2 separate regions of the Homo sapiens genome follow, and region 1 is linked to region 2. The links come from fine-mapping of genetic effects on gene expression. A gene starts in region 2. The other region holds a variant in brackets. All regions are shown on one strand. Distances are from middle to middle.

What was found. PIP is the estimated chance that this variant, and not a neighbour inherited with it, causes the effect.
Region 1: its variant is the best candidate, but not a certain one, in a credible set for the expression of DGKE in whole blood (INTERVAL, PIP 0.55).

The regions. Positions count from the first base shown.
Region 1 is chr17:56,793,879-56,804,975 of GRCh38, forward strand. C17orf67 (chromosome 17 open reading frame 67) reads right to left here. Exons shown (of 8, transcript NM_001085430.4): 7 at 1,166-1,302. The coding sequence ends at 1,186. Among named protein-coding and RNA genes, the nearest start is that of C17orf67, 34 kb to the right of the region's middle. The variant A/G (reference allele first, on the strand shown) is at 5,625.
Region 2 is chr17:56,828,763-56,839,859 of GRCh38, forward strand. DGKE (diacylglycerol kinase epsilon) reads left to right here and starts at 5,389. Exons shown (of 12, transcript NM_003647.3): 1 at 5,389-5,498; 2 at 6,016-6,497. The coding sequence starts at 6,034. It overlaps C17orf67 (chromosome 17 open reading frame 67), which reads right to left and starts at 5,158. Exons shown (of 8, transcript NM_001085430.4): 1 at 4,856-5,158; 2 at 4,136-4,580. It overlaps LOC124904036 (a long non-coding RNA gene), which reads right to left. Exons shown (of 3, transcript XR_007065857.1): 3 at 7,598-9,858. RefSeq lists silencers at 4,386-4,680, 4,654-5,723 and enhancers at 5,048-5,645, 6,114-6,513, 6,245-6,842, 8,733-9,288.

The sequences.
Region 1 (11,097 bases), 35 kb before region 2:
GAATTAGAAGAGGGATGTAGCCCATCCCTACCCCTCAAAAGCAGAACTTCTATTCCACTGCCAGCAGGTGATCCTCTCATTATCTGTGAAAGCTCCCTCAGAGTGATTTCATGCCCACACACACACAGGACTGTGCAACACGGTCCACATAAAGCATGCAGATTTACGGTGGTCAGAAGCCTAGCATACCAACCACTGCTTAGCCTGAGTTAGTAGCTTAATCATGCTCAATTAGTTCCTCTTTAAAATGGGGTTAAAGTGCATGCCCTGCAATGACACCAGGGTATTAAGAGGATCATGTGAGGCAATTTATGTTACATTATAAAGAGTGATTAATAGGAGCGTCCCTGTGTCAATTCACAGTAGCACAAAATAAACAACAAAGGTATAAGATTTCTCTTAACCACAAAGATAAACTACCTGATTATATCTTGTCCTGCTTGGTCCACAAAACTTACAGAGGAGAAATGAAATTCACTGGGCTTACCCTCTGAAGGAATTTTGCTACCTTATCTAACAGGATTTGGAAAGGGGGGAAGATGATGAGGACAGACAGGGAGAAGCAAACAGCCTCATCTAGGCACAGAGGTACAGAGTTGGGGGCATGCAGGGTGTGGGGGGAAAGCTGGGCAGTACCCTGCTGGTGGGCTGAAAACAGAAGCCCCAGGGAAAGGGAAAGACAGAGGGTGGGCTGGGCAGATTGGCAGCCTTGAAGGCTGCAGGAAGGCAGTAGGGAACAGGAGCGAGATCTGGGAAAGAAGTTGTTGATCCTGATGACAGTGGTGATGATCATGGTAGATGTCACAGGTTGACTCCACGAATGCTGAGCCCACCTGAAGAGACCCAAGTCTCAACAAAACACACTTCTCCACATTTGGGGTCCAGAGAGAGCTTTTCTGCATGGCAAATAGGGTCACGTCCCTCCCCATTCGGGATCACTTTGTGATTCAATAAAAGTTGGGCTCCCCCATTTGTCCCCCAGTGCTCCTCTCAACCTGGCTCCCCACTATGTCTCCTGCCTCACTCTTGCCACCCCCATTCCAAACCCATAACCAGCTAACCAGCTGGCCCCCCTGAGGCATGGTCTGGAAAGTCTCCCAGCCCATGCCATGCTGTCCCCCACCACTCCCTCAGACAGAGGTCCGGGAGAGAGAAGGAGACGTACCGAGGCTGGTCCTGATCCCCTTACACAGGATGAATCCTGTTCCTGTCACAGTGGGGTTTGCAGTGAGGGTTCAGCCAGTGCTCCAGGAACTGCTCCTCAGCGCGATGCTCCAGGGCGAGCAGGTGGTGCATGTATTCCTGTCAAAACAAACCACACTGAAGAAGGCTTCACCCACAGTGACAGCCAAGGGATCAATATGCGTGGTGTGGCTCTGGCTCCCTAGACAGGGCAGGATGGGAGGACAGGCAGGGAGAAGAAATCAACGGCCACACCCATGCCTCTCTGTAGGGAAGACCAGTCAGACTGACCCACCCAGTGGGCAAAATAAAGAAGTCTGACAATACTAAGTGCTGAGCGGGTGGATTTCCATGAAAACATGGGACAACAACTTCAGAAAACATCTGATTGCCTGCAATCTAGAAATTTCACTCCTACTTTATACCCTAGCGCAGTGGACGTCAAACTTTATCAGATATCAGAGTCACCTGATATCTGATATTACAACACAGATTGCTGGGCCTATCTTACAGTTTCTGACTCAGTGGGTCTTGGGTGGGACTTGAGAAGTTGCATTTCTAACAAGTTCCTAGCTAATAGTTATATTGCTAGTTGCTCTGAGAACAAAAGAAACTCTTATATCAGGAAAGGCATATAAAAATGTTTATAGCAGCAATAAATTTGTCATAGCAAAACACTGGAAACATGCCAAATAGCCACTTACAGGAGAATGAATCAATAAATTATGTTAGGGTTATGCCATGGACTATTATACAGCAGAGAACATAAATTATACTGTAGCTATATACAACAACATAGATGGGTCTTAGAAATAGCATACTGAGTGAAAAGTCCAAGTAACTACATTTATAGTGTGACACTATTTTTATAAAGTTCAAATATGTGTAACTAAATCATGTAATATATTACTTATGGCTATATGCATTTCTGATAAAATCATCTTTTTTAAAAGACAAGGGATAAGCAGAAGAAAGCTAGGGTTGCTATGCTAATATCAAACAAAAAGACTTTAAAATATAAAAATGTTACTAGAAATAGAGAAGCATTTTGTAAAAATAGTCTGGCAGTTCCTTACAATATTAAACCTAGAATTACCATTCGTACTCCTGGCTAGCAACTGTACTTGTAGGTATATACCCAAGAGAAACAAAAATGGATGTCCACACAAAAACTTGTATACAGATGTTCACACCAACATCATTTGTCACAGCCAAAAACCAGAAGCAACCCAAATGTCCACCAATAAATGAGTGGATAAATAAAATATGCTACTTCCATATAATGGAATATTATTTGGCAATTAAAATGAATGAAGCAGTGATCCCTGCTACAACATGGATGAACCTTGAGAACATTATGCTAAGTGACAGAAGCCACTTAGGACACTTATGTCACAAAGGACCACACGGTGTATGATTCTGTTCATATGAAAGGTGGCCAGCCCCATACATTAATCTGTCCACAACAGAAAGCAGCTCCTTGCCCTGACCAGTCCTGCCCCTTACTGTGGCCAGCATCTCCATCTACTCAGGAACCCGCTCCAGAACACCAACTGTCATTGCCTCACTCACCCTCAAACTCAACATAAGACTGAGCATCGGGACGTTGAGGCTATCTCCGGAATAGTTCTCAGATGCCCTCCCTCGTCTCTGCCACTTCCCTAGGTCAGGTCTTCACCATTGTCCACCAAGGCTGCCGCAGACTCCTCACCCCTCTCTCTGTCCCACCCCTGCGTGTTGCATTCCTCCCACCCCATGCCTCCTCCCTCCCCCATCCCTGCTCCACTCTGACAGAGTGACCCAAAAGGGGTCAAAGGTGGCCCACCAGGGCCACCTTCCTCCTCGAAGCCTTCACCAGTGCTGTCTACCTGCAAGGAGTCAGCATCTGCCTCTACCCACGGGTTTTGTCTGTGGCTCTGGATAATGTACTTGCAAGCCAGCAGATGAGTGCAGCTTTGGGTAGGATTCCCCTCCTTCCCCCACTCCTCCCAACAGCAGGGAGTGGCCCTGCCCTCCCACCTTGGTCTACAATGGTCATTGACAGCCTTTGTTAATCTCTATGCTTCTCAAAAACGCAATTTCTCCCTGAAATGGTTGCCTGAAGAGACTTTAATGAAGGGAACATTCATAGCCATGTGAGTAGGGTTAAGGGAACTATCAAAGAATATTCTAGCACCCAGGGACTAGCAATAGAGGGAAGTCATGACCATGTCTAAGTTTGCAGGGCCAAGGGTGGAGAACCCTTAGAGGAGCCATTAGGCCTGGGGCCAGGTGGGTGGGGCTGCTGTGGTCTTGGGGGCACAGCACAACCTTTGCAAGGCAAGGAGGGAACAGGGAACAAACAGCCCATCCTCTCCCTCCTCTTCCCCTCAATATCCTGCAGGGCCCAATCAGAAGCCAGCTGGCCAGGGAACCAAGGGATTCAGTCTGCAGGAGTCAGTCTCCTTGAGCACAGAGTGGGGCACAGCAGGGTGGAGAACGGACTGGGGTCAGGGCAGAGAAAAACCGCGTCCATACCAGGATGATGAGGAGTGGCAGGTGTGCTACCACCAGAGAAGGGAGCAGACAGCACAAATAACAGAGGGCCATGATAGGGCCTCTCTGCAACCTGCAGCTCATCAGCCTCTGAACACACCCATCCTTTGCATGAAATTTTTGTCTTTGCATCTCCTCTCTCAGTTGGCTCGTGCTCTGCCCTTTATCAACAGGAATGTCACTTCCAGCCTTTAGGGCTGGCCTTCTCCTCCAAATGCGCCTTGGTCTTCCCCGAAGCCAGTTCAGGCTGTGAATTTTCTGTATATGGGTTACTCATGGCATTATGTCCTATAAGTGATGCATAAAACAGAAAAATGATAAAACAACAGGACCTCTCTTAAATAAAAGAATAAAATGTGATTTCTCTTGTCTTAGTCAGTTATAAGCTCTCCTCCTTCCCTCTCCATCTTCTAGTGCAATCTCTGGCCTACAGGTACTGCCTATCATACTGAAGGTGGTTCATCATATCTCTCTTCATGGCACCACATTGCTAGTTAAGCAAGAAGCTTCAGCGCACTCCTCTTCCTTGCCCTCCCACCATCTAAGCAGCCTAACTCCTGTGAATGCTCCTGAATCCCTTCTACCCAGCCCGACTGCCTCTGCCCAGCTTAGGCCCCAGCCCTGGGGCTAGACCCCTGCCACAACCTCTGCAGGCTCTTACTACCCCTTGTCCTACCTTCTTCTTCTTGTGGGGTTTTTTTTATTGTTTTATTTTGTTTTCTTAATAGGCATTATTGTTTACAGCAGTTTTAGGTTCACAGCAAAATTGAGCAGAAATATAGCATTCCCATATATCCCCTGTCTTCACACAGGCACAGCCTCCCCCACTACCAACATCCCCCACCAGCATGGGATATTTTTTACAGTTGATGCACCTGCATTGACACAGCACCATCACCAGTCCATAGTTGATATTAGGGCTCACTCTTGGTATTACACAAATGCATGGCAGTCGGGCATCATGGCTCACATCTGTAATCCCAGCAATTTGGGAGGCTGAGGTGGGCAGATCACTCAAGCTCTGGAGTTCGAGACCAGCCTGGGCGACGTGGTGAAACTCTGTCTCTACCAAAAATACAAAAAAAAAAATAGCTAGATGTGGTGGTGCATGCCTGTAGTCCCAGCTACTCAGGAAGCTGAGGTGAGAGGATCTCTTGAGCCCAGGAGGTAGAGGTTGCAGTGAGCTGAGATCGCACCATGGCACTCCAGCCCTCGGAGACAGTACGAGCCTTTGTCTCAAAAAAGATAAATAAACACAAATAAAAATAAAAGCATGGCACCAACATCTCCTTCTGATGAGGGCCTCAGGAAGTTTCCACTCATGGCAGAAGGTGAAGGGGAGCTGATATACACAGATCACATGGTGAGACAGGAGGCAAGAAAGAGAGAAGGTGCCAGGCTCTTTGCAGAAATCCGTTCTCATGGGAACTAAGAGTGAAAACTCCCTCATTACCGCTATTCATGAGGGATCCACCTCCATGACCCAAACACCTCCCATAAGGCCACACCTCCAACACTGGGGATCAAATTTCAACATGAGACTTGATGGGGCCGAACAAACCACACACAAACCCTAGCACTACCATTGCAATATCACACGGAACAGTTTCACTGCCCTAAAAATCTGCTTTGCTCTGCCTGCTCATCTGCCTAACCCCTGGCAACCACTGATCTTTATACTGTCTCTATAGTTTTGCCTTTCCCAGAATGTCATACAGTTAGAATCACAGAACATGTAATTGAATTTTCAGATTGGTTTCTTTTCTTTAGTAATATGCATTTAAGTTTAACTCCATGTCTTTCCGTGGCTTGATAGCTCATTTTGTTTTAGGGTTGAATAATATTCCATTGTCTGCATGTATCATAGTTTATTTATTCATTCACCTGGACATCTTGGTTGCTTCCAA[A/G]TTGGAGTAATTATGAATAAAATTGCTATAAACATCTGGGGGCAGGTTTTGTGTGGATGTAAGTTTTCAACTCCTTTGGGTAAACACCAGGGAGTGTGATTATTGAATCGTATGTTAAGAGTACGTCTGGTTTTGTAAGAAACTGCCAAACTGTCTTCCAAAGTAGCTGCACCATTTTGCATTTCCACCAGCAATGAGTGAGAGTTCTGTTGCTTCACATCCTCACCAGCATTTGGTGTTGTCCATGTTCCAGATTTTGGCCATTCTAATAGGTGTATAGTGGCATCTCGTTGTTTTAAGTTGCATTTCCCTAATGATGTACGATGTTTCACATGCTTACTTGCCATCTGTATATCTTCTTCAGTAGATGTCTATTCAAGTCTTTTGTCAGAATGGGTTTTTAAAATATAAAGAACAAAAATAGCTTTACTGGTTTTTATTTTTATCACAACAGTGATACATATTACTTTCTTAAAGTCATGAAAAAAAAAAAGAAAGTTATAAAGAAGAGGTTGAAAAATCCCTCTTGATTTTTCTGTATCCTGTTGCAAACTAATTTTTTTTTTTTTTTTTTTTTTTTTGAGACGGAGTCTCGCTCTGTCGCCCAGGCTGGAGTGCAGTGGCGCCATCGCGGCTCACTGCAAGCTCCGCTTCCCGGGTTCACGCCATTCTCCTGCCTTAGCCTCCCGAGTAGCTGGAACTACAGGCACCCACCATCACACCCGGCTAATTTTTTGAATTTTTAGTAGAGACGGGGTTTCACCGTGTTAGCCAGGATGGTCTCAATCTCCTGACCTCGTGATCCACCCGCCTCAGCCTCCCAAAGTGCTGGGATTACAGGCGTGAGCCACTGCGCCCGGCAGCAAAGTGATATATTTTTTTAATTTACCCACGTTGCTTCTTCACTTAAAATGTCTGTATGCCTCCCACTGGTCTCAGGAGAAAGTTCTGATTCCTTAATATGGCTAAGGTCTTTCCATGACCCAGCTACACCCATCTCCTGAGCCTCTTCTCTCACCATCAATACACTTGAGCTTTGTTCTCCATCTTTCCCTGAACGGGCCATGCTTGCTGTTCTTTCTAAGGCTTCCAAAGCACCTGTTGTTTGCTCTGCCTAGAACACCCCTGTACCTTCTTATTTTCCCATCTCACTCTTACCTGACTTTTCAGGCCTCAGCTTAGATGTTACTTCCTCTAGGAAGCCTTCTCAGATTCCCTGTGACCCCACTTCTCTGGGTCTCCAAAGCTCCATAGACTTTTCCCAGCATAGCCCTCCCTGGTCATTCTGTGTGGCAGTGAGCTCTCCCTGAGAGTGGGGACTTCATTGGCCTGCCTCATACTGTTTAGTGGAGGTCGTAGGTGGGTTCGCTCATATATTGGTATCAAAATTGGATGTTCCAGCTGGGTGTGGTGGTGCACACTTGTAGTCCTTGCTACTCAGGAGGCTAAGGCGAGAGAATTACTTAAGCCCAGGAGTTTGAGGCTTCAGTGAGCTATGATCGTGCCACCGCACTCCAGCGCAGGCAACAGGGTGAGGCTCAAACAAAACTCAAAACAAAAAACTTGTTCTTTTATGTTCCCTCCAAAGAGAATGGATAGAGATGGGAATGATTTTTAACTTGGAGTGTGTTTTTTATATTGCCCTGAAGGAAATGTTGGTGCTGTAATTATAGGATGTGAACCATTACAAAGTATGCATAGAACAGGTCCATACAAACAGCAGGCCAATAATCAGAGAAGTGGCATTTCACCTTAGGAAAGAGTAGACATACTCAGTCATATTTGTGATGTGATTAAATTGTTTTTGGCATGTATCAATATCATAAAAACTCTAAATCATGGAAACCTTCCTATGGCATTAAGAAGGCTTTAACAAAGGGTCGGGTCCACTATAGAACTCTAAGTTTTTAAGTTTTTAGAACACCCTCTAGGAACTCTGCATTCTACATCAAATGTACTCATTTAAAAAGAAAAAGAATGTGCAAAGGAAGGAATTATGAAGTGTCCAATTTTTCTGATTTTTTTTTTCTTTCCCCCAAGACCCATGCAGTTTGGATTTGTTTTGGTTATGGTTGTTGTTTTCATTTAACTCATCAAAATACACTCAGTGTTCTGGCAGGGAGTCTCTGGGTCAGCTGGGGTAGAGGGCAGATGGTGAGAGGGCTCCTTGTGGGATCCAACAGTGATTCCCTGGCTGCTTTCTGAACATGTTTGCGGATTTGGGGCTGAGTTCCTTCCCTATCCAGGGAGTCTTTGGCCAGAAGAATAGTAATTGGGAGGAACAGGAAGGCCGTGTGCAGTCTTGTAAATAAGGAACAACAAGTTCCCAGCATATAACTTTACTTGTTCAACTATTCTGTGGAAGCAGCACACTGAAGGAACCCCTGCTGCCTGCTTCTTGCTGGCCTGTTTGCCAGACAGGGAGGAATAGAAGCTAAGAGTCTGAGTCTCCTTCAAACCTGGACCCTGTCATTATTGCTTTACCTCTCCAGCCTCAGTTTGTTCATCTGCAAGATGGGGATTGCACTAGCACTTGCTTCCTTAAGTTAGTTAACTTGCTTCCTTGGGTTAGATACTAAATGAAATGGTGCAAATAAAGTTTTGTGCCAAATAAGTAGCCTGCATTTGTCCCTCCAGATCCTGTCTGTCTCCCTTTTCGCCTGGCCGTGGGACCCAGATTAATTGTCGCCGTAGACTCCCTTGGCCTGTGGCTTCTGGTTGAGTTTCATCAGTGGGAGACACCAGAACGGATTAGAAGGTAGGAGGAGGGAGAGGCCAGGGTATTCAATCCCCTAGTTCCTCACCAAGGAGTCACAGCCACACCAAGCATAAATACAATCTCAAAAGAAATCATTTCAGCTTGAATGTCATCTTTTTAAAGAATTTCCACAGTTCACCTCAGCAATTGGCTGCATCCCTCTCCTGAAGGCCACAGCTCCTAGGAGGCTGTCCTCTCCAGCTCCGGGAACCGTCTGCCTCCCTTACCCCTTTATGGTCTAGAGGTTGTTAACCCTGATCTTTTATTATTTCTTGTTGGTTTGCCTTAATCCTGCCCACGCCTTTGTAAAAAGTCTCTTTATTAAACACTCTTCAGGTACCCAGTCTCCTGCTGGGATCCCAATACTACAGGGCCTTGGCACATGATTCTTGGCACATAGTAAGAATGCATTAAATGCTAGCTGTTAACTTTGGCTACTATTAGATAACAAAGATCTGAGTACACATCAAGATTGTGAAGGAGAGCATCTTTCCCAGGAACTGGTACACAGGAAACTTTCCGTAAAGGCTTGTTGAAGAAAAGACTACAGCATCATTCTTCAAAGCGTGAGCTGTGCTCCCCTCAGAGGCCCATAAGGCCAAACTATTTTTAGAATAATACTCAGACATTATTTGTCTTCCTGCTGTATTGGCATTTTCACTGATGTGCCAAGGCAGTGGCAGGTAAAATGACTGGCGCCTTAGCAGGAATCCAGGCAGTGGTACCCAATTCTATTAGCGGTCATCGTATCCTTCCCCACCACGCACTTACAGTACGAAAATAAAAATAAAACATTCTTAAAATGCCAGTTGCCCTGAAGAATGCCCTGGTGAAACAGTATAGAGTGACCCAAAAGGGCATATGCAGGCAGTACTTCTGCTGTATGACAAAGTGCAATGGGGTTTCACAAGGAAAAGCATGTGTGCAATTGCTGGTGTTGAACTGGCTATGCATGTTTTATGTGCATGTTGGGCAGACATCTTGACAATGAATGAAGTGAGCCTGTCACCTCAAGAAAAACAATTTACAGTATTTATTAAATAGAACTTCCCAGAGGAAACCAGATTTTGGAAAACTTACATCTGCTACAGAAGGCTGGCAACTTCCCAATACTTAAAGACTTTTATAATGAGATCACTGGTGATATTAACGAATGTCACTACTGATACACAGTACCTTTTATAATTATATACTCATTTGCATCTTTACTCATTTAATCTCTGTCCCTCTCAGCCAAATATCCACCCAGTTTTTTTATGGCAGTGACCAAAGTATATCTGGTCTGTGATTTAGTGCTTGGCACACAGTAGGACCACAACAAAGCTCACTGGAAAAATGTATAAAGGAGCAAATGAATAAATGAAATAACTGTTCTTTCCCTATAATCTTGCTAAATCCTCCTTGGAAATTTTCTTGATATCTGTGTCAGTCTGCTCATTATAACAGCCTAGGCCAAATGTACATTAAAAGCACCAAAAAGTAATATATATTTCACACTCCTAAACACCAACTGAAATAATCATTGAAGAAAAACAACCAAAACAGACACACACTGAGAATAAGAAAGAAATGAGCACTGGTTTCCATGACATTTCACTATTTATTTAAAATATTAGGAAAACGAATATGCCACAAAGGCTTAAAAAGCAATCATTAGTCAAATCAAAAGGCAAATTGCAAATCTGCTGAAAACCACAAATTCAACAATTGCACTGGCTGAGTTAGAAATGGCCCAACATTAAGGATAATCTCAAATGTTCCTGGACCAAGGAAGAAGGGGTATATGGAAAATGAGTTTTAATTTCTTCAGATTCCTTTCTCCAAGTGGGGGGGTGTAAATCAAAGCAAAACAAAAACCAGTATCTGTGTTCCATGTCAAATGCCAACTATAATGATTTAAGTAAATTATTTCTCAGTAATTAGAGCAGAAATTAAAAGTAGTCCTTTATTATGGCTCTGGAGTGGTGTGATAATGAACTTAAATACCCACCAGAACTTGACCTATGCTGAGAATCATAAAGTGGACAGTTATTCTATCAAGGCAGGACCTTTTTCCAAGAAGGCAAAATACTTCCTGTGACATTTTTGCAGAATTAAAGATCCATCAGCATTTGGAAAAATTATTTTGCTCATTAGTACAAGCAAGGTAATCCTATATATAGAATGGTGGCTCAGAACTTAACTGCACTGGAATACTGAAGGCTCCGTCCTAAAGAAAGGCAGAACAGTGCTGTGGGCAATTTACACCTCGGTCACTCCAAACTGGCCTTTGAGGTAATGGGGAACAAAAGGGTAATGGAGTTACTACATACATTTGTCAAAGAGCTAAACATGAAAGCATATTTTACAAAGACTACTTACAATAAAGCTAAAATGATTTATATTTGCCCAACAAGAACACTCCTTAAAGGATCACAGGCCAAAATGGAACACTTCCAAGAAAAGTGTATTCCCAGGTTTCACAAGCACTTACAAATATAATCACAAAAGAAATAATTTAAGCTTGAAGACATTCAAGCTTTATTCAAGCTTCAAGACATTCATCTTTTTAAAGAATTTCCACAGCTCACCCGAGCAATTGGCAAACAACCTCTTTCCTAAAATTTGAGTAGATTAAGAGAAATTTAATGAGTCTAAGTGAGGCGATAGAAAATATTTATTTGGAATAACCTCCAGGTTTTACAGCAGAGCTATATCCCACAAAATTTCTACCCT
Region 2 (11,097 bases):
ACTCCATGTAACATACGAAAAGCAGCTTGCAGAAACACTGGATTCACACATGGAGGAGAAATGCCAACTCACAGGCAAGCACAGTGATGACAAAAAAAAAAAAAAAAACACTGCAGAGATTGAGGGATCCTTAGAGGATGTCGGTGTATGAAAAAGTATTTAAACATCCCCAGTTTTGTAGATGCTTATAAGGTGAACAGCACCAACGCAATGCTGATGCAGAAATTCACATCCCAGCGGGGCACAGCTGCTCACACCTGTAATTTCAACACTTTGGGAGGCCGAGGTGGACAGATCACCTGAGTCAGGAGTTCAAGACCAGCCTGGCCAGCAGTGAAACCCATCTCTACTAACAATACAAAAATTAGCCAGGCATGGTGGCGGGCGCCTGTAATCCCAGCTACTCAGCAGGCTGGAGCAGGAGAATTGCTTGAACCTGGGAGGTGGAGATTGCAGTGAGCTGAGATCGCACCATTACACTCCAGCCTGGGCAACAAGAGCAAGACTCCATTGCAAAAAAATAAAATAAAATAAAAATCACATCCCTGGTTCAAGAACTCAAAGAAGAGAGGTTTAAAGAAGAAAAGAAAAAAGAAGAGAGATCCAGACTCTCTAAGCAACAAGAAGGGCTGGCAGAGACGTTATCTATGCTGGAGTCCCTGGAAGAGGCCATGGGAGTCACCCCATCACAAGGAGCTTTTCCACACCAGCCAGGCAGCCAAGAGCCAAGCCCTGCTGCTCCCTTCCCCAGGAGGGCTTGGGTCTTAGGGCAGCGCTGTTCTCTCCCCTCCACTCAGGCCTCCAGAGCTGCCAGGCCAGGTTCTCCCATGTTGACTCCATCCGAGGGTCCCTGAGGCCAGTGGATCTAGGGGAGCCCCTTTTTGTGTTGAAGTTTCCACCTTCCCCTTCTGACACTGCAGCCAGCTCCTTCATGGTTGATTCCTCCAAATCTAAAGAATACAGGAGACCCTGGAGCACATCAGCAAAGTCTGGATTCTCTCTCATTAGCAGCAAAAGAAATGCCATACTTTAGAGCCTCATCTTTTGCTCAAACTGAAACATCATCAAACTGCATTTCTCAAGACAATGCTCTGTAAATATTATTTATGTATTAATCTCCTAGGTGAACAATTTCTATTTTATCCTCTACAAAATTATTGCACTTTGAAAACAGATTTCATTTATCAATACTTTCGGTACTCAACTGCAATATTTTTTCTAGAGTTATAGTCCCAACAATTTTAAGTCATAAGTTAAAGCACCATTTTTTGGCTTGAGTATGTATTTGTTGAAAAATTTGGCCGGGCGTGGTGGCTCACACCTGTAATCCCAGCACTTTGGGAGGCTGAGGCAGGCGGATCATGAGGTCAGGAGATCAGGACCATCCTCGCTAACATGGTGAAATCCCGTCTCCACTAAAAACACAAAAAAAATTAGCCGGGCGTGGTGGCGGGCACCTGTAGTCCCAGCTACTCGGGAGGCTGAGGCAAGAGAATGGCGTGAACCTGGGAGGCGGAGCTTGCAGTGAGCCAAGATCGCACCACTGCACTCCAGTCTGGGTGACAGAGCGAGACTCCGTCTCAAAAAAAAAAAAAGAAAAAGAAAAAATTTATGCAAAGGGAGATTTATTTTGGGATAAAGTAAAAGGGAATGTTTAAAGAGAAATTTCTATAATATTTAGATTCAAATAGTGGATATTTTTCAAAAAACAAAATTAATAAATTACATGGAGATGGTTTTATTTCACTACAAGAGTGATGTAGGGAGAGATTTCTAAGAAGAAATCCCCTTGGACAACATTGGGGAACCCCACATCACTTTTCCCCATCTCCTCTCAATTAGCCACCACGCCTGGCTAATTTTTTTTTTGTATTTATACATTTTTATTTTGGTATGTAAGAGAGATACCTGACAAAAGTAACCTGAATTAAACTTTCCATTTAAACTTCCTCTGTGTCTTTATGTTGAGTCAGGCACTGTATTTAGATAACTGTAAATTATTTATCAAGTATGAATGGAGGTCACTCACCCTAATAGTTAAACAGACTGGATTTACATAAATGTGGGGCAATCTTGGTAGGGGTGGTCAGCAAGGCCTCTGTCGGGAGGGAGCACCTGGGCAACGAAGACATAGGGAAGAACTTTGTAGGAAAAGGGGGTAGAACTGACAATAGCCCTGAAGGGGGCATGAGTCTGGTGGGCGTGAGGACCATGCAGAGGCCAGAGTGGCCTGAACTCAGTGAACGATGGCCAGAGTGGTAAATGAGTGAAGGGTACCAGGGGTCTGAGAATGGAGGGGTTTTCCCCACAGTAAGAGTTTCATTTCAATATAAAAGTTCAGAGGCAGCCTGCAGGGAACATAGTAAAGCAGGAAGACCAGGTGGGAGGCTGTGACAGTCATTCAAGGGTGAGAATGGTGACAGCTGGACCAGGGGAGTAGTGGAGGGGGGGATGGAGAGATGGGCTCGAGTCCAGGACCTGTGCTGCTGCCAGAGACCGAGAGACTCACTGAGGCCTGCGGGTGCCAGAGAAAAGGGGAGTCAGGATGAGGACAAGGAGTCCACTGTGAGCATCTCCCTGAGGGGTGGTGTCCTTTGCTGGAACAGAGAGGGATGGCAAAGGACGGGCATCTGGATGATAAATTGGAATAAATGTTTGGGAGGAGACTTGGGAACAGGACCTTTTGACACTAGAGTAGAAATACCAAGTGCTCAGATGGACATAGGTGGAGAACTTGGAGGAGCAATCACAGCATCAGCAAGGAACGTGGAGGATCATTGGGGCGTGAAGTTACTATTACACAGAAGTCCAAGTCCTGGGCAGATTCCAAGGGGTGAATGAAATGAGTCTGCTAGTGACCAGAACCCTCCTCAGGTCTCCCAGTAGCCACAATACCACAAAAAGCCTCAAGAGTGACCTCCCCAAGTCTGTTCCCATTAGGGGACTTGAGTTGTGCAGAATCCGTATAAGACAGCCTCCACCAAACACGTGTCTATGCAGGTCCACGTGCCATGTACATACGTACGACTGATGAAGATCCCCTCCTTGACCAAGCTCTAGCCAGGCTTCCCTGAGCCCCCTTTTCAACTAGGCCTCCACCTTGGCCTATGAAATCTGCAGACTTCAGCAAAAAGGATCGGGTCCATCCTTCCCCCTATATCAAAACGCTTAAACACACAGTTTCTTTTTCTTTCTTTTTTTTTGAGACGGAGTTTCGCTCTGTCGCCCCGGCTGGAATACATTGGTGCGATCTCAGCTCACTGCAACCTCCGCCTCCTGGGTTAAGCAATTCTCTGCCTCAAGCCTCCCAAGTAGCTGGGACTACAGGCACTCACCACGATGCCCAGCTAATTTTTTGTATTTTTAGTAGAGACGGGGTTTCACCATCTTGACCAGGCTGATCTTGAATTCCTGACCCCGTGATGCACCTGCCTCGGCCTCCCAAAGTGTTGGGGTTACAGGCGTGAGCCACAGCGCCCGGCCTAAACACATAGTTTTTAACTGCTCAAAGCTGCATCCATAGGATGACCCCAGACCCCCTAAAGTATCTTCCTGGGAAAGCTGCCAAAAGAACTCACTGTTGGCTATTGCCAACACCTTACAAGCAGCCCCTGATGTCCCTTTCTTAAAGAGTTAACAACAACAACAAAAAACTAAACAATTGTGAATCCTTCCTCTGTCTCTCTGGGATGTAATGTCTCCTACACATCAGGAGTATCCTTCTCAAGAACCTGAAAGCCATTCCTCCAACATGCAATCACCAGGAAGCAAAGGGCCTATCTCCCAGTTACTGTGGGAGGATAGGACCCTGACTCCCATAACAGCCATCTAACAGGCACTGTCGCCTAACCTTACTTACACTGACCCACCCTTCACAAGTTTCACTTTCCTGACTACTGAGTTCCTGCTCATCCCCTTCACATTCCCTCCTCCTCCCTCTTAAACACCTAGTCACTTCTGCACAAAGTTCAGTTCCGTTCACGAGGTACCTTCTTCCCTATTACAATAGTATATTATTAAAATCTGCTTTACCACTTTTACTAGTGTCTAGCTTTATCTTCTACAGTTAATACAAATATACGCACATACACATGCATATATATGCACACATAATAATATATACATACACACATACACGTATATATACATCTATATGTGTATTCTTAATGAATGTTATGTCTTCTCTAATCGTTTGGAAGATATTATCAAGTATTTCTTTGCAGTTTTCCTATGATCTCTGCGTTTCTTTTCTGTTCCTTTGGTCCCTTGCTTCGGTGTGTGTTTTCTTTCCATCTTTTATGCTAGAGGAAGTCCGCAAGCAACAAGTGGTCCTCGGCTCCCACTCCTATGTATGTATGTAGTAGGAAGGAAGCCGCTGAGTGCAGCTGTGCGCGCCGGGGCGGTGCCTGTGCCTCTCTGGATTCCGTGTTTCTTCGGGGGTGCTGAGCAGCGGTGCTTCCGCGTCCGCGTTCTCCGGGTAGCTGATGTGCTGCAGGCTGCAGCCCGCGTGGTCGCGGCTCAGGTCCGTGTTGGGCTGGTAGGACTCCAGCGGGGAGCGAGCATTCCTCCGGAACCTGGGGCTGGACGACAGCAGCAGGAGGCGTGCTCCCATCTCCGGTAGTCCCCGGCTCCCGCTGCTCCCCTTTCTCCCCGGCCTCGGGCGCTGGCGGGCGCGGGCGAGGGGGTAGCGCAGGGGAGGCCCGCCCGCCACGGCAGGGGGCGGAAACCGCGGCCGGGCTCGGGGTCAGCGGCGACGAGCGGGCGGCTGCCCCGCTCGCCCTCGGCCTCCGCGCCCGCCCGCCGCTCCGCAGCGGAGGAGCCCTCAGGTTTGCGTTACTGCGGCCGCCACACCTACCTCAGCCCGCCGCGGCCAGGTCGGGCGGTGCCGCGCAGGCCGCCTCCCCCCCTCGCTTCCCAGTCGGCTTACGCATCCCCGGCGGCGGCGGCGCCGGCATCGGCTAGAGGTTCGGCTCAAGTCGGGGGCACTCGTGTCTGCGCCGAGCGGCGGGCGTGAGCGCGGCCCCTGGGCCCCGCGCGGCGCGGTGCTGCGAGGAGGATCCTCGTGGCCTTGCCCCGCCGGCGGCTTTCCAGAATTTTCTACGATTACGAAGTTTTGGCATTCAACCCTCCATCCTCTCAAACGCCCCACTGTTACTCCGCCCCCTTCCCCTAGGCCCCGCCCCCAGCCGCAGTGCCCTGCCTCTTCCATCCGTCTCCAGCCTCCTCCACGGCCCCGCCCCCTCAGGCCGGTCCGTCTCCCCTCCCACCTCACACCTCCGCCCCGCCCGTCAGCCCTGGCTCCGCCCAGCCACGGGGCTCGCCGCCACAGGCCCCGCCTCCAGCTCGCGGCCCCGCGCGCCGGATCGGCGTGCGTGCGGCTGGAGCCTTAAGCGTTTCCCCCGCCCGGCTTCATCCCTGCTGGCGGCCCAGCGTCGTTCTCCTCCTGCGCGAGGCGGCCAAGGCCTGCTGGCCCGGAGCCGCGCCTCCACCCGCGCGAGGTAGGGCTTCGAGGACCGGCGCGGCGCAGGTCTCCGGAGGCCTCCCGAGAGGGGCTAGGGTCGCCGGGCCGCGCGTGGGAGCGGGTGGGGCCCGGGAGGAGACGGCGCCCCGGAGGGGAGTGCGAGGCCTGGGCCGACGGTTACGGGCGCCGACCGGCGTTGCCTGGCCTGAACGCCCGGCCTTTCGGTGGAGGGCAGCTTGCCCCTGTATGTTGCGCCCTTCCGTGGGTCAGACCGGCGGCAAGGTGAGGCGGCGGCGGCAGCAGCAGCCGCCTTGGGCTCCTGGACGCGCTCCCGAGGTGGGGCGGGTTGGGGAGTGGGGATTGGAGCGTGATGGCTGGACGTCGCCTTCTCGGCGCGGCAGGTCCCGGGAGACGGGGGGACGAGGCGCAGTCCCGCCCTCGGGAGAGCGGAGCCACCTTCACTGAGGGCGCCCGGTTTGGCCCCGGAAAGGCAGGAAGGGGGCGGGGAAGGGATGGCGAGCTCGGGGTGCACCGCCTGTTTCTTTTCTGGTTAGGTATCGTCCTTGGAGAAGATGGAAGCGGAGAGGCGGCCGGCGCCGGGCTCGCCCTCCGAGGGCCTGTTTGCGGACGGGCACCTGATCTTGTGGACGCTGTGCTCGGTCCTGCTGCCGGTGTTCATCACCTTCTGGTGTAGCCTCCAGCGGTCGCGCCGGCAGCTGCACCGCAGGGACATCTTCCGCAAGAGCAAGCACGGGTGGCGCGACACGGACCTGTTCAGCCAGCCCACCTACTGCTGCGTGTGCGCGCAGCACATTCTGCAGGGCGCCTTCTGCGACTGCTGCGGGCTCCGCGTGGACGAGGGCTGCCTCAGGAAGGCCGACAAGCGCTTCCAGTGCAAGGAGATTATGCTCAAGAATGACACCAAGGTCCTGGACGCCATGCCCCACCACTGGATCCGGGGCAACGTGCCCCTGTGCAGTTACTGTATGGTTTGCAAGCAGCAGTGTGGCTGTCAACCCAAGCTTTGCGATTACAGGTATGGTCTTCGTGGACACTCACTGTCCCAGAATGCGCCGTGGGAATCAGGATTTCATAGAGTGGTGTAGAGGCCTGCTTTAATCTCTGCTGATGACCTAAACTCATTTTGAGGAAACAAGCTAATAAATAAACATCCCTGAGTTTGTGCAAGCGTGGCAGCTTTGCAGTAGTCATTTGCTGAGACGATGCATCCAGCCTCCACTCCTCAGCCAGCCTGCCCTTTTGGGTAATAAAACTTGGCTCCTAACGTTAATACAGAGGTTTCTAAGTGGTGCCTGCTTCATGGCCACTGTATATTTTAGCTTTTGTTCCTATCGATTATCTCCTTATTTTAAATAAGGAAAAATGAAATATGGACAAATTAACTTTTCCCTTCAGCCGCAAAACTGATGGGTCACAGGTTTTGTACTATGAATGTGCAGTGAAAACAAGTGTCATTCCAAGGCAGCACTTTTATGTCTTTTGCTAATATAGCTGTTGGTACCATAGCGAAATATACTCAAAAAGAACACTGAAAGGAATATTCCTTTTGACGCTTGGTCTTTCAGGACATGTAGAATCTTAGATAAGTGACCTTGATTAAGCCAAGAATATTTTAATGTCTTTTATATACACACTGGACAACACATTTTTGTCCTTAAATATTGTTTGAAAATAGGTGAAGATGTCCTTTGCTGATGTTGGAAATTGGTAAAGGAGAATGCTGCTTTGCAAATGATCTATTCTAACTCAGTTCACAGTTGAGAAAATTAAAGCCCGTTAGGTCCACTCTGGTAAAATAGGACTGGCCTCCAGGATTTCCAGCTCTGGACTAACACTTAGCCTCCTTTGAGCCTTAAGTCTGGACATCTTCATTGTAATGGGTTTTATTTCTGACAAGTAGAAAGGCGCATAAACATGCTTAAGAAATGAAATAGGCAGTAAATAGGAAGCTGCTTTTTAATTTTTTTAATTTTTTTTGCAGAAATTCTTTCATTAGCATGAACGCTATTATAATGTCAATACCTGTTTTTAAGTCTTATTTTAAATAATTTTACACATTATCAAAGAGGCTTAAGAATAAATGTTCAAAATAATGTATTCTAGACAACTACAAAGTTTTGTAACCATGCATTTTTATTTGGTATCTTTAAAAATTAAATGCTGTCCTTCTGGCATCAGTGAGAGCCAAGTTAGCAGGGACTTTAAATAAATTTCATAATGAATTGAGTATTGTTCTATTTCCTTCCCTTCTCTGGTGTAGCCTCCAGCAGTCTGTGTCTGTGCAGAATTATATTAAAAATGGTTTCCATAAATAACCGTATTTCAAATACTCTTGAACACATAATCATGCTTCTGATCCTCCACCCAAATGATCTTTCTAAAAATGCAAATCTGATCAAGTCCCTGCTCTGCTTAAAATCCTTTAAATTGCTCCCCATCGGGTAAGCTGACTGTTTTACAGTGTAAACCCCTAAGTGCTTTTTCACAGGGTACATAAGGTCCTAGTACTTTCTGGCCTCTGTCCTTTTAGTTTTATCTACCACCACCTGCATTAAACTTTATGCACCAGCAACACTAAGCTTCTTGTAATTTCCTTAAAACGTCAGGCATTTTCTGACATTTCTGCCCCTTTGCTCAAAGCTTTCCTCTCAGTATTCTTCTGGCTAGCTTCTAGGCACCCTTAAAGACCCATCCCATGTCCTTGTCCTTTCCTTCAGGAACTCTTACCTGATCTACTCAGCTTCCCTCCTCCCCCAGTTTTTCCTTTTTGGTGATAACGTAATATCCTATATCTCAGTGGTTCTCAAAGTAAGGTCCCTAGACCAGCAGCATCAGCATCTCTTCAAAATCTGTTAGAAATGCAAATTCTAGGGTTGCTAGATTTAGCAGATAAAAATAAAATATTGCAGAATTTGGAACATAAAAAGTTTCTCTGAAATTCAAATTCAACTAGGCATTGCCGTTTTTTTGTTTTTTTTTTCTGGCAACCCTAGCCCAACCCCAGACCTACTAAATCAGAAACTTGGGCTGGACATCAGCAGTCTTGGTTTTAACAGGCCCTACAGGTCCTTCTAAAGATGGAGAACCACTGCTATATTTACATATCTTTAAAAACATGCACCTCCGTCTCTTAATTTTGTATCCTCCCATTGAGCACACTGAATCTGTGTGATAATAAATCTTCTTTTCTTCATTAGTGCATTTTTACAGAGTAACCCCTTACCCCATGATAGAAATTGTCTCTGTGTAATTTAGGAGATGTTTATTATTCCCAAGAGAAGAGACCACAGTGTCCTGAAGTTGTACATATTCTACAGTGTTCTGAACTGATTTATGTTGGCCAATAATTGTATACAGGATTACAGTCTCCTGTGACCTTCTGTAGGAATGAGATATTTTGGAAGGAGAAACAAAATAAATAGCTACTTAGAACCTTTAAACACAGACCAGACAGTCCTCTGGATTTTATCTAGCCCTGAGGAGAGCTCCTTCCCTGTCTGCATCTCATTCTTAGGGAAGTGAGTGAACTCTGCAGACAAGTTACATTTCAAAGGACACTAATGAGAGATGATGACTGAGTTTAAAGCCTGCAGAATAAGTGAGAAAGGCCCTTTAATTTATACTCATTCGATCATTATACTTATTGAGCATCTATTTTTGTTCTAGACACTGCTAGAGTCTACTTTGTCTGTAGATTTTTTCTTTTTGTGTGCTCCTGTTTCTACCCCCAACCACTACATCTTCTTTTTCTTCTTCTTATCTCTCCTCTGACTAAAATAGGGAATTAGGTTATATTTTTACATATTCAATATATTTATTAAATGAACCTTTGTTTCTTGTAGTGTTCTATCTCATTAAGAGAAAAAGAACTTAAAGTGCTTTTTAATTTATTGGACTTTTTATTCATTACATCTACCCCACGCCTCACACACAATTACTGTGATTAGTAAAACAAAGCTGCTGACTCTCAGAAGGCAGTTAGATTGGCCTCAGTGTAACTAGTCTCAGCTTTGATCATAAATTTTGTTTCTATATTCTATTGGTGTGTGTTTATTCATTTCATTAATTATCTGAAACAGTGAAAGATACCAAATCATCTTCTAGAGCAGAGGTGGGCAAACTTACTGTAAAGAGCCAAAAGAATTTTCGGCTTTCCCAACCATTTCGTCTGTCATAATTACTTAACTCTGCCATAGTTGCAGTGCAAAACCAGCCATGGACAATACATAAATGAATGAGCTTACCTGTGTTCCAGTAAAACTTCATTCACAAAATCAGATGGCAGACATATTTGCAGTTTGCAGAACCCTGTTCTAGTGAATCTTATAAATGACCATCTCAACTTTATGTATAATTCAGCTGCCTCCTTCAGCACACTAAAAAAGAGAGCTATTGTGACCAGGTAATTTTTTAGAGAAAACAAGCCTTGTTAAACCTTTTTTTTTTCTATAAATACTACTGCACAAGAACGGCATATAAATTCATGAGGCATTCCATATTTTCATATGAAGGAACTTTCTAGAGTAATGTTCTATATCTTGATAAGGGTTTTAGTTACGTATGTTCATTTATCAAAACTCAGGAAGTATATACGTACATTTCATTGTATGTAAATTTTACATGAAAAGGAAAAAACATCATGAATTCTAGGTAGTGATAAGCCTATTTGCTGATGTATTCAGGAAGTATTCTGATGTCTTCAGTTTACTTGGAAATGTACTAAAAATAAGATGAATTAATGGATAGAAATGTGACAAAGCAATTACAGTAAGATGTTAATGGTAGAATGTAGGTGGTAGGCATACCTGTAAAAAATATTTTTAAGTAAAATATTTTAAAAAGCAAGTAAACTATTCTTGCTTTTAGAATATATTTGCTAAAATATTGAAGGGTGAGATCTCATACTGTCTGCAGTTTACTTTCAAATGATCAAAAAAATATGAATTTATATGGAAAGAGAATATTGTGGGAGAAAATGTCATTAAGAATCAGCGTGAAGGGTGGGCTTAGGGTATTCATTTTGCTATCCTTTTGACTTCTCTGAAAGTTTGGAATTTTTCAAAATAAAAAGAAAAAAGATGATAAGCTGTTACCCAATGACATGATGCTAAAGCTGAAATACCAAGACATTTTAGTAATGTCTTATCTTCCCAGTGAGTTTGAAATCTAGGTTGTTAAATACCAATTACAACATAGGTAAAGACAATAGGATTCAGGTTTGAATATGGTATTTCTAAAGAAGAATGTAATACTGAGTAATTAGTAAGCATTTTATTTTATTTTGTTTTTTGAGACAGGGTCTTACTCTATATTGCCTAGGCTGGAAGACGGTGGCAAGATTATGGCTTACTGCAGCCTTAGCCTCCCAGGTTCAAGCAATCCTCCCACCTCAGCCTTCCAAGTAGCTGGGACTACAGACATGCACCACCATGCCTGATATTTTTTTTTTCTTTTTTGTAGAGATAGGAGTATCACCATATTGCCCAGGCTGGTCTCAAATTCCTGGGCTCAAGCAATCCTCGCATCTTGGCCTCCCAAAGTGCTGGGATTGCAGGCGTAAGCCACCATGCCTGGCCCTAGTAAGCATTTTAGCTGTACCTTTATAGAGCAAAGGC